Regions from separate parts of the Homo sapiens genome. Here region 1 is linked to region 2. Evidence: fine-mapped expression QTL. A gene starts in region 2. The other region holds a variant in brackets. All regions are shown on one strand. Distances are from middle to middle. Region 1 has its middle 16 kb from the start of ANAPC7. Region 2 holds the start of FAM216A (family with sequence similarity 216 member A).

Region 1 (5,374 bases), 49 kb after region 2:
GGTTGTTTCCATCTTCCGTGAAGAATGCTGCAATGAACATGGTTATACAAGCTGAGTTCCTGCTTTCAGAGTGCTTTTAAAAAGTCACCCATTTGCTATTTTATCACAAATCCCCTTGAGATTTATCCCTAAACCATTATTTAAGTCTTTTTACTTGTCTGACTATCTCATAAATAAAAATGACCATCTGGACATCTTAGAACCTTCTTTACTGAAAAGAGGGAAAATTGGTTGGGATGCTGGTGGTATTTATTCCCTCCAGTTGTTCAGGGAAATTCTTTGTCCTGAAGTTATTTTTCCACTGAAAGGAAACCTATCACTGCCAGGAGACACTTAAGGGATGTTAAGTAATGTTTCCCTTAGAGCAATTTATAAGTGTTATGTTTTTCCCCTTGTACAAAAGACAGATCTAAGAAAAATGTCTGATTGCAGCTGGGAAAAATTTTCATTCTTAGGAAGCTGCTGGACATTTAGAGATGAACTTAAGTGGAGCAGAACATTTATATTTATAAGTTGTTCCTCCAATGTATTTGACCCAACACTCCACGGTATCCACATCATTCTACATCTGTTACGCAGCTGACCTAACGATTCACAGCCAATTACCATCCCAGGACTTCTGTTTCCTCACATAAAATGAAGATAACCTCTAACACGCCCTCCAGCTCCAAAATTATCCTTTCTGAATATGATTCCATGAGGAAGAGGAGGCCTAGTCTCCTTGGATATATCTCCTGTGTGTCCCAAGTTGTTTTAACACCATACATGTCCTTTGAATATTATTAAAATCAGTATGATCTGGCCAAGCATGGTGGGTCATGTGTGTAATCCCAGCACTTTGGGAGGCCAAGGCGGGTGGATCACTTTGCTGCGGGATAATTAAGGAATTAGAGAGACTGAGGGGTTGAGGAGGAATTATTTAATTATTAAGCTGCACCAACCCAGTCGGATTAACATCCAAAGGACTGGGCCCTGAACAAAGAGTCAAGTTACCTTTTAAGCATTTCGTGGGGCAGGGGCAGATCTGTGCAGGGGGAAGCATATTACAGAAGCAAGAAACAAAGACAGTTATTTAATTGAGACATGCATTACATTATTTCATACTTTTTAAGGAACAACATGTTTTACAACTTGAGATTATCTGTCTAGTGACCTTGTAGCTGCACAGCTAGAGAAACAGGGTCTTCACAATGCTTGGGAAAGGGAGAGATAAGGCTCACTAGCCACAGAAAGACAGGCAGTTAATTTTAAAGGACTCCAGCTCTTTCTCTTCCTCAAGGGGAATTGGGTTTTCTTATATACAACTGAGTTTTTGTTTAAACATTTTTTGATTTATTTTAATTCCTGTTTCAGCTTGAGCTCAGTTCAAGACCAGCCTGGCAACATGGCAAAACCCCTGTCTCTACCAAAAAAAATTAGCCAGGCGTGGTGGCAGGTATCTGTACTCCCAGCTTCTTGGAAGGCTGAGGTGGGATTATCTCTTGAGCCCGAAAGGTAGAGGTTGCAGTGAGCTGTGATTGCACCACTGCACTCCAGCCTGGGTGATAGAGCCAGACCTTGTCTCAAAACAAAACAAAACAAAATCAGTATGATCTGAATTACATCATATTAATGGGACCTAACCGTAGAACCTACCCTCTCTTTGATAAATTGATTTTCAAGATGAATATTTTGAAATTTCCAGATTAGCTGGGCATGGTACCACACACCTGTAGTCCCAAGTACTCAGGAGGCAGAGGTGGAAGGATTGCTTGAGCCCAGGAGGTCAAGGCTGCAGTGAGCTATGATTTCGCCACTGCACTCCAGCCTGGGTGACAGAGAGAGACACAACTCTAAATAAATAAATAAAAATTGGGCACAGTGGCTCACACCTGTAATCCAGCACTTTGTGAGGCCAAGGCAGGAGGACAGCTTGAGCCCAGGAGTTTAAGACCAGCCTGGGCAACATAGCAAGACCCCATCTCCACACACACTCAATTTTTTAAATTAGCTTGGTGTGGTGGTGCATGCCTATAGTCCCAGCTACTTGGGAGGCTGAGGTGGAGGGACCACTTAAGCCTGGGAAGTTGAGGCTACAGTGAGGTATGATTGTGCCACTGCACTCAAGCCTGGGCAACAGAGGGAGATCCTGTCTCAAAAAAAATAAAAAATAAAAAATAAATAAATAAATAAATAAATAAAATTTCCAGAGGAGGTAGGTCCCCCTTTGCCTCTAATTTTTTCTCTATAAATATTTTTGCTTCATCCATTCTTTGTGTGAGTTTATCAGTTTCACAGGTGTGTTTTAGCTCTATTTCTTTGCAGGAATTATCAACTTTTCTTTTTTTTTTTTTTTTTTTTGAGACTGAGTCTCACTCTGCCACCCAGGCTGGAGTGCAGTGGTGCGATCTCAGCTCATTGCAACCTCTGCCTCCCGGGTTCAAGCGATTCTTCTGCTTCAGCCTCCCGAGTAGCTGGGACTACAGGCATGCGCCACCACACCCAACTAATTTTTGTAATTTTAGTAGAGATGGAGTTTCACCATATTGGCCAGGCTGGTCTTGAACTCCTGACCTAGTGATCCACCCACCTTGGCCTCCCAAAGTGCTGGGATTACAGACCTGAGCCACTGTGCCCAGTCTCAACCTTTCTTCTACCAGTTAGCCAGTGATACATTCTCCTTCATTCCCATCAGTATATAAAAATGATATTTCTCCAATCAGAAAACAAAAATCCTCTCTTTCACCCACCTGCTGCCAACCATGTCCTCCTTTGCTTTACAACAGGGCTTCTCCACATTGACACTTTGACATTTTGGACTGGCTACTTAAATATATGAATTAAAAAAATTTTTTTTTTCTTTTTGACAGAATCTCCCTCTGTCACCCTGGCTGGAGTGCCATGGTGTAATCTAGATT[T/C]ACCGAAACCTCCACCTCCGGGTTCAAGTGATTCTCCTGCCTCAGCTTCCCAAGTAGCTGGGATTATAGGTGTGAGCCACCATGCCTGGCATGAATGTAAATTTCTCCTCCACTTTGCCGTGGGGGGCTGTCCTATACATTAAAGAATGTTTAGCAGCATCCCTAGTATCTATCTACCCGATGCCAGAAGCAACACCCACCCCACCTCAGATGTCTCCAGACATTGCCCAATGTCCCCTAGGAATACAGTCACCACCCTGCCTCCACCCCAGTTGAGAACCACTTCTCTGCAGCAAAACTCCTCAAAATAATTGGCCGGGCACAGTGGCTCATGCCTGTAATCCCAGCACTTTGGGAGGCCGAGGCAGGCGGATCACCAGGTCAAGAGTTCGAGACCAGCCTGGCCAGCATGGTGAAACCCCGTCTCTACTAAAAATACAAAAATTAGCCAGCCGGGCAGGTGGCACATGCCTGTAATCCCAGCTACTTGGGAGGCTGAGGCAGGAGAATCACTTGAACCCAGGAGGTGGAGGTTGCAGTGAGCCAAGGTCGTGCCACTGCACTCCAGCCTGGGCGAAAGGGCGAGATCTCGTCTCAAAAAAAAAAAAAAGAATTATTGGCTGGGCAAGGTGGCTCATGCCTGTAATCCCAGCACTGTGGGAGGCCAAGGCAGGCAGATTACCTGAGGTCAAGTGTTCAATACTAGCCTGGCCAACATGGTAAAACCCCTTCTCTACTAAAATACACAAAAATTAGCAGGAGCATGGTGGAGCATGCCTGTAATCCAGCTACTGGGGAGGCTGAGGCAGGAGAATCACTTGAACTTGGGAGGCAGAGGTTGCAGTGAGCCGAGATCATGCCGTTGAACTCTAGCATGGGCAACAGAGCAAGACTCCATCTCAAAATAAAAGAATTATCTATATGCATTGTCTCACATTTGTCTCCTTCTCTTTACCAAAGCGCCACTGAAAATGTTCTTGTTGACATCATCAGTGACTTTCATGTTGCTAAATGCTATGGCTATTTCTCCATAAGATGCAAAAAATTAGCCAGGCATGGTGGTGGGCGCCTGTAGTCCCAGCTACTCAGGAGGCTGAGGCAGGAGAATGGCATGAACCCGGGAGGCGGAGCTTGCAGTGAGATGAGATCACACCACTGCACTCCAGCCTGGGCAACAGAGCGAGACTCCGTCTCAAAAAAAAAAAAAAAAGAAAAGAAAAGAAAAAAGTATAATAGCAAACATTTATATAGTGCTTCTGGAACAGGAATTAAAAGAAATTAAAGAATGTGTAAGCAAAAACTCAGTTGTATGTAAGAAAACCCAATTCCCCCTGAGGAAGAGAAAAAGGTGGAGTCCTTTAAAAATTAACTGCCTGTTTTTCTGTCTGTGGCTAGTGAGCCTTATCTCTCCCTTTCCCAGGCATTGTGAAGACTCTGTTTCTCTAGCTGTGTGGCTGCAAGGTAAGTAGATAGATAAACTCAAGTCGTAAAACATGTTTTTCCTTGAAAAGTAAGAAATGATGTAATGCGGCCGGGCGCGGTGGCTCACGCCTGTAATCCCAGCACTTTGGGAGGCCGAGGCGGGCGGATCACAAGGTCAGGAGATCGAGACCATCCCGGCTAAAACGGTGAAACCCCGTCTCTACTAAAAATACAAAAAATTAGCCGGGCGTAGTGGCGGGCGCCTGTAGTCCCAGCTACTTGGGAGGCTGAGGCAGGAGAATGGCGTGAACCCGGAGGCGGAGCTTGCAGTGAGCCGAGATCCCGCCACTGCACTCCAGCCTGGGCGACAGAGCGAGACTCCGTCTCAAAAAAAAAAAAAAAAGAAATGATGTAATGCATGTCTCAACTGAATAACTGTCTTTGTTTCTCACTTCTGTAATATGCTTCCCCCTGCACAGATCTCCCCCTGCCCCATGAAATGCTTAAAAGGTAACTTGACTCTTTGTTAGGGGCTCAGTCCTTTGGATGTTAATCCGACTGGGTTGGTGCACCTAAATAATTAAATAGTAAGTATCCTCCTCAACCCGTCGGTCTGATTCCTAAATTAGCCCGCTACACTGCAAGGGACCCAGAGATCACCTCCAGCCCCTCTTTTAACTCTTAGTGGGTTTTTGAGCTGGATCGAAAACGAACTGACACCAGGCAGATTAACAAGAGAAAAGTGTACAAACTTTGTTTCACGTGTACGGGGGGGTCTACACAAAAAAAAGAGTGAAGTCTGAAGAAGTGGCCAAATAAGATGCTTTATATGTTTTAGACAAAGAGCAATATACTTGAGAAGAAATGACAGGACAAAGAAAATCTGGCTGGGGCAGTAAATTTTTCAGGGGAGTCACTAGGAGATAAATGGGGGGAGTGCCAAACTGGTGAAAGTAAAGGTAACTTTGTTAAGTATGTTTATGGAGGTCCATTGTAGCCTTTAGTTTTAAGTCTCTGGAGATAAGGGCTATTTTCTTGCTCTTATATGGAGAGGG
Region 2 (5,374 bases):
AAAGGTTGACTTTATAAGGTATGAGGGAGTTTTGAAGGAGTGATAGAGCTGCTCTGTATCTTTAGTGTGGCAGTGCTTACATAGCCATGTGCATTTGTCAAAACCCATCATATTATACATGAAAAAGTAAGACTTTAATTTGTGTAAATTATGCCTCAATAAACCTGACTTTAAAGAAAAAAAGTGCTGGGCACGGTAGCTCCCGCCTGTAATCCAGCACTCTGGGAGGCCGAGGCGGGTGGATCACGAGGTCAGGAAATCGAGACCATCCTGGCTAACATGGTGAAACCCCGTTCTCTACTAAAAATGCAAAAACTTAGCCAGGCGTAGTGGCACGTGCCTGTAGTCCCAGCTACTCAGGAGGCAGGAGAATCGCTTGAACCTGGGAGGCGGAGGTTGCAGTGAGCCAAGATCACACCACTGCACTCCAGCCTGGGTGACAGAGCGAGACTCCATCTCAAAAAAAAAGAAGAAAAAAAGTAAGGAGTTCCGGAGTTCCCATTAGTTAATAATGGGATTTTTGGCAGATCACTTCCCCTTTCAGATTAGTAAATATGACCGGAATTGATGATTTTTAAGACCCCTGCCAGTGCCAACATTGTATCATGTAGCATAATAAACCTGATTCTAGTTTGAAAATTTTATTTTGTATTTCTGGGAATATAAGCTTTTCATAAATTAGTCTTGGTTTGTGTTTTTTAATGGGGTTCCTTAAACCAAACTGAAGGGCATACTGTCTTTTTTTTTAATTGTAGTTTTAAGAGTTTGGATAAACTAAAGGAAGCATGGAGATGAACGACAGGCGGAGATAAAAGGAAAGGACAAACAACCTCTTTGTGCCTGTTTTGTCATCCATAAAGTGGGGATCATAATAGAACCTTCCAGGATTACAGGCTCATGCCCATCTCTACTAAAAATACAAAAATTAGCCAGGTACGTGGTGGCGCACACCTGTAGTCCCAGCTACTTGGGAGGCTGAGGCAGGAGAATTGCTTGAACACAGGAGGCGGAGGTTGCAGTTAGCTGAGATCGTGACACTGCACTCCAGCCTGGGTGACAGAGGGAGACTCTGTCTCAATAAAAAAAAAAAAAAAAATTCACGTATCTCCTGATACACCAGGATCCTGCAGTCGGCCAAGGACTGTGAAGAACAGAAAAGAAACCCAAGACTCCATCCCATCTTTAAGAAGTCTTCAGTAGCACCAGAGACAAAAAGGACGGCCATGCGGGCGGATCACGAGGTCAGGAGATCGAGACCATCCTGGCTAACACGGTGAAGCCCCGTCTCTACTAAAAATACAAAAAAGTAGCCGGGCGTGGTGGCAGGCGCTTGTAATCCCAGCTACTCCAGAGGCTGAGGGAGGAGAATGGCGTGAACCCGGGAGGCGGAGCTTGCAGTGAGCTGAGATGGCACCACTGCACTCCAGCCTGGGCAACAGAACGAGACTCTGTCTCAAAAAAAAAAAAACAAAAAGGATGGCCATGGGTGCAACAGGGGCCCTGACTGCGGGTTGTACTGAACGGCAAACATATCGCAGTTCTTGCTTTTAGGGAATAAAGTAGGGAGAGGAAGAGGAGGTAGAGTCTCCAGCAGTGACTTCAACAGCTCGCTGTCTTCACTATCTAGGAAATAGGTGTAAAAACCTGCTCAAAACGAAATAGATTTGTGAAAAAAGGAACTTCAGTGTGAAGAAAATGTCAAGATCAAGGCACCTCGGATATTCAGTCATTGGTCTCATTGGCGATTAGAAATCCTCGTTTGAGGTCGGGCGCAATGGTTCACCCCGTAATCCCAGCAATTTGGGAGGCCGAGGCGGGCGGCTCACTTGAGGTCAGGGGTTCGACACAAGCCTAGCCAACATGGTGAAACCACCTCTCTACTAAAAATACAAAAATTAGCCGGGCGTGGTGGCAGGCGCCTGTAATCCCAGCTACTCGGGAGGCTGAGGCAGGAGAATCACTTGAACCTGGGAGGCTGAGGTTGCAGTGAGCTGAGATCGCACCACCGCATTCCAGCCTAGGCAACAGAGCGAGACTGTCTCGCTCTCAAAAAACAAGAAAGAAAAGAAAAAAAAAGAAAAAGAAATCCCCGTTTGACAGGAAGGTGGCTCATGTCACTAGAGGGAAGGAACTGGTTTATGGGCCTGGATGCCCCCAGTTGAACCGGGGGACATCTTCCTCCTCTGTCCCTCCCGCCTCGCCTTTCGGTGGACACACAGTCCTGTGCCAGACAGCAAACGTCCCAGCAGGGCTCGCAGCGCCCCCTCGGGGCAGAGAGATGCACGCGGGCGACTGTCGCAGTCACCTCGTGGCCACTGCACCAAACGCTCCTCCGAAGCTTCCCTCAGAGACCCTCCCTCAACCGCGAGGCAGTCCTCCCCTCTGCCCTCTGTCCACAACAAAACTGCTCCCCGCCTCTCACTTGAGGGCACCGGGGCCAGCCCCCGAGACGAGAGGTCGGCCGCAGCCCTCCTCCACGGGGCTCACGACCCGGGGGCCTCACGACCCGGGGGCCCCATGCTGCCACCCTTACCCCGGGGCCCCCAACCTCACCCGCCGCCGCCACCCTCGGTCCCGGCCACAGCGGGCGGCTCTGCAGAAGAGCTACGCTCCGTCCAGTCGGACCCCGGACCCTGGCCGGGCATCTCCGCGGCGCCGAGACCGCGAGCCGTGTGCGGGAGCAGCTGTCCCAGCATCCCTCCCCCGACAGCACGCGTGCGTCAGGCTGCTGGTATTCCGGAGAGGCGGCTCGGATGCTGGCTTCTCGCCCCTCCGAAGCCGTTCGGACACTGCCCGAACAGCTTCGGGAGAGCGGGGCGGGCAGATCCGCGACCCCGGAGTTACGGTGGGGGAGGGGCAGGAGCGCTGCGGTCGCTGAGCGTTTGCACGTTTGCACCTCTCTGTGGAAGCAGTGCGTCACAGGAGGGAAATATACATGCTCCCCAAAACAAGAGGTGCCTTCCACTTCAGTATTCCAGATCCTCAGCACATTTGCAAATCGCGAGGGTCACCATACAGGTCAAACGTCTGCACGCAAACCACGGACCGAAGCACGTGGCGCAAGGATGCGGAGCTTTATCTGTTGTCCGTTATTACTCAGGTATCCAAGCTTAGACAGCATCCCAACGGCCGATTTCCATCAACTACTTTTGCGCACGCGCAAATCCTCTCCCTCGCCCCTCCCCTTTTTTCTCAGGACGCGTTTCTCACGGGATTTGGCCCGCGGGCTGCCCCGTAGTAGGAGGTGTGGTAGAACTGGAGGCGTAGAAAGAATGTGGATTGCGATTGGTTCGCACTTCACTTTCCCGGAGCTCAGTGGGCGTCGCGCGAAGGCTAAGGGAGTGTGGCGGGCGGCTCCGGGAGCCAACATGCCTCGGTATGCGCAGCTGGTCATGGGCCCCGCGGGCAGCGGGAAGGTGAGGATCTGCGGGGACAAGGAGAGAAAAGTAGGAGTTCGTGGAAGGCGGGAGATTGGGTCCTGAGGGAGTGAGCCGGCGGGTGTGTGTACTGGGAACCCTGAGACCCCACGCAACTCATTTCTGCTGTCTGGCTTCACGTTCTTTTTTGTTGTTGTTTTGAAAGGGAAATAATGGTAGTTGTTAATATTTATTGTATACTTAAGCCCCAGGCAGCAGATGAAACGCCTCGCTTATTTCTACAACAACCCTGTGAGAGAGATCTCATTTTTCTCATTTTACAGAAAACGAGATACAGAAAGGTTAATTAAGTTCTTTGCCCCGCAAAAAAATATAAATCCAGTTTTGTCTCAACTCCAGAATCCGGCCCTGTCTCGCTCCCAGGAGGGTAAAGTGGGGTCTCATTAATTACTGTTTCTCAGAACTTGGGACATGGACTTTTGGTATTTAAGGTGCTTTTAGGTGGTAGGTGGTACATGGACCCCACATTAAGGAGCATCAGATAATGTGTTAGGGAAATTGTTCCCTTTTCATTTCTCTTTCAGTTCTCAACTTCGCATTTAGGAGAAGTTGTGCTCGGTGCTAGTGTGTATCTTCAGCACTTCTTTAATCCCCAGGTCTTTTCAGAGAGCAGTTCTTAGTCTCAGAGCTTTTAATAGGCACCTGTATTTAGCTAAAAATAGAACATTTAAAGATTTTATATAATTTTATGTCTAATTTCACGTTATGTCAAATATAAGTGGTTTTCAGTTTACAGTAGGGATAAAATTTTTTCTTGTAAACAAATATTAAGGGAATGTTAGGAACATTCAAATACAGTGAGAATGGTGAAGATATGGATCAAATAACATATGTGTGGGAAACATAGCCAGGCGTGGTGGCTCACGTCTGTAATCCTATCACTTTGGGAGATGGAGGTGGACGGATCGCCTGAGCCCAGGAGTTTGGGACCAGCCTTGGCAACACGGCGAAACTCTGTCTCTACAAAAAAATGCAAAAATTAGCCAGGCCTGGTGGCAGGTACCTCTAGTCCCAGCTTCTCGGGAAGCTGAAGTGGGAGGATTACCTGAACCCAGGAGGTTGAGGCTGTGGTGAGTGGTGATCGTGCCACTGCACTCCAGCCTGGGTGACAGAGGTACTGTCGCAAAAAAAAAAAAGAAGAAGTGTGGAAACACTAGAGTCTGTGGAGGTGTTGTGTGGCCTCAGTCTTTAACAAACACATTGTTCTAAGCTGTTGACTTATTCTGGGTAAAAACATGTACATGTAACTAAGATACCTATGGCCTTTAACTTACCCAGAGTCTGTAGTCTTTTGGGGAAGACAAATAGATGACCTGTCAATTAAGATACAGTGTGATGTGGCCAGGTGTGGTGGCTTAAGCCTGTAATCCTCGCACTTTGGGAGGCTGAGGCCAGCAGATCACTTGAGCCCAGGAGTTCAGGGTCAGCCTGGGCACCATGGTGAAGCCCTGTCTCTACCAAAAATACAAAAATTAGCTGGGCATGGTGGCGAGAGCCTATAGTCCCACCTACTCGGGGGGCTAAGGCTGGAGAATCGCTTGAGCCTGGGTCAAAGCTGCAGTGAGCTATGATGGTGCCACTGCACTCCAGCCTGGGTGACAGTGAGACCCTTTGCAAAAAAAAAAAAGATACAGTGTGTGATGTATGGAGAGGGCATTCCAGACAGAGACAACAGTATGTGTAAAGGCACTGAGAGGACAGCATGATGGATGTTTTTTCTATAGTCTATTTTAATTTTTGGGCTGATTGTATTAAACAAGTATCTTTATAAGCTTTTGATGCTTACTATCAGAAACATTCCTTGAGTACGTTCTTTATCCCAGGCACTGTTTTGGGCCCTGGGGGTTGTATGGGGAAAAAAACATGCACACACAAAATCCGTGCCCTTGTGGAGCTTATCTTTAAACATAATAAGTCAATTAGAAACAATTATCAAG

Evidence for each region. PIP is the estimated chance that this variant, and not a neighbour inherited with it, causes the effect.
Region 1: its variant is fine-mapped to the expression of FAM216A in whole blood (TOPMed, PIP 0.91).

The regions. Positions count from the first base shown.
Region 1 is chr12:110,417,413-110,422,786 of GRCh38, reverse strand. No RefSeq gene overlaps it. Among named protein-coding and RNA genes, the nearest start is that of ANAPC7, 16 kb to the right of the region's middle. The variant T/C (reference allele first, on the strand shown) is at 2,898.
Region 2 is chr12:110,466,198-110,471,571 of GRCh38, reverse strand. It overlaps FAM216A (family with sequence similarity 216 member A), which reads right to left and starts at 2,727. Exons shown (of 7, transcript NM_013300.3): 1 at 2,554-2,727. The coding sequence starts at 2,696. GPN3 (GPN-loop GTPase 3) reads left to right here and starts at 3,315. Exons shown (of 8, transcript NM_016301.4): 1 at 3,315-3,416. The coding sequence starts at 3,369. LOC124903016 (a long non-coding RNA gene) reads left to right here. Exons shown (of 3, transcript XR_007063459.1): 2 at 756-933; 3 at 1,121-1,283. RefSeq lists enhancers at 1,984-2,153, 3,074-3,203 and a silencer at 2,354-2,663.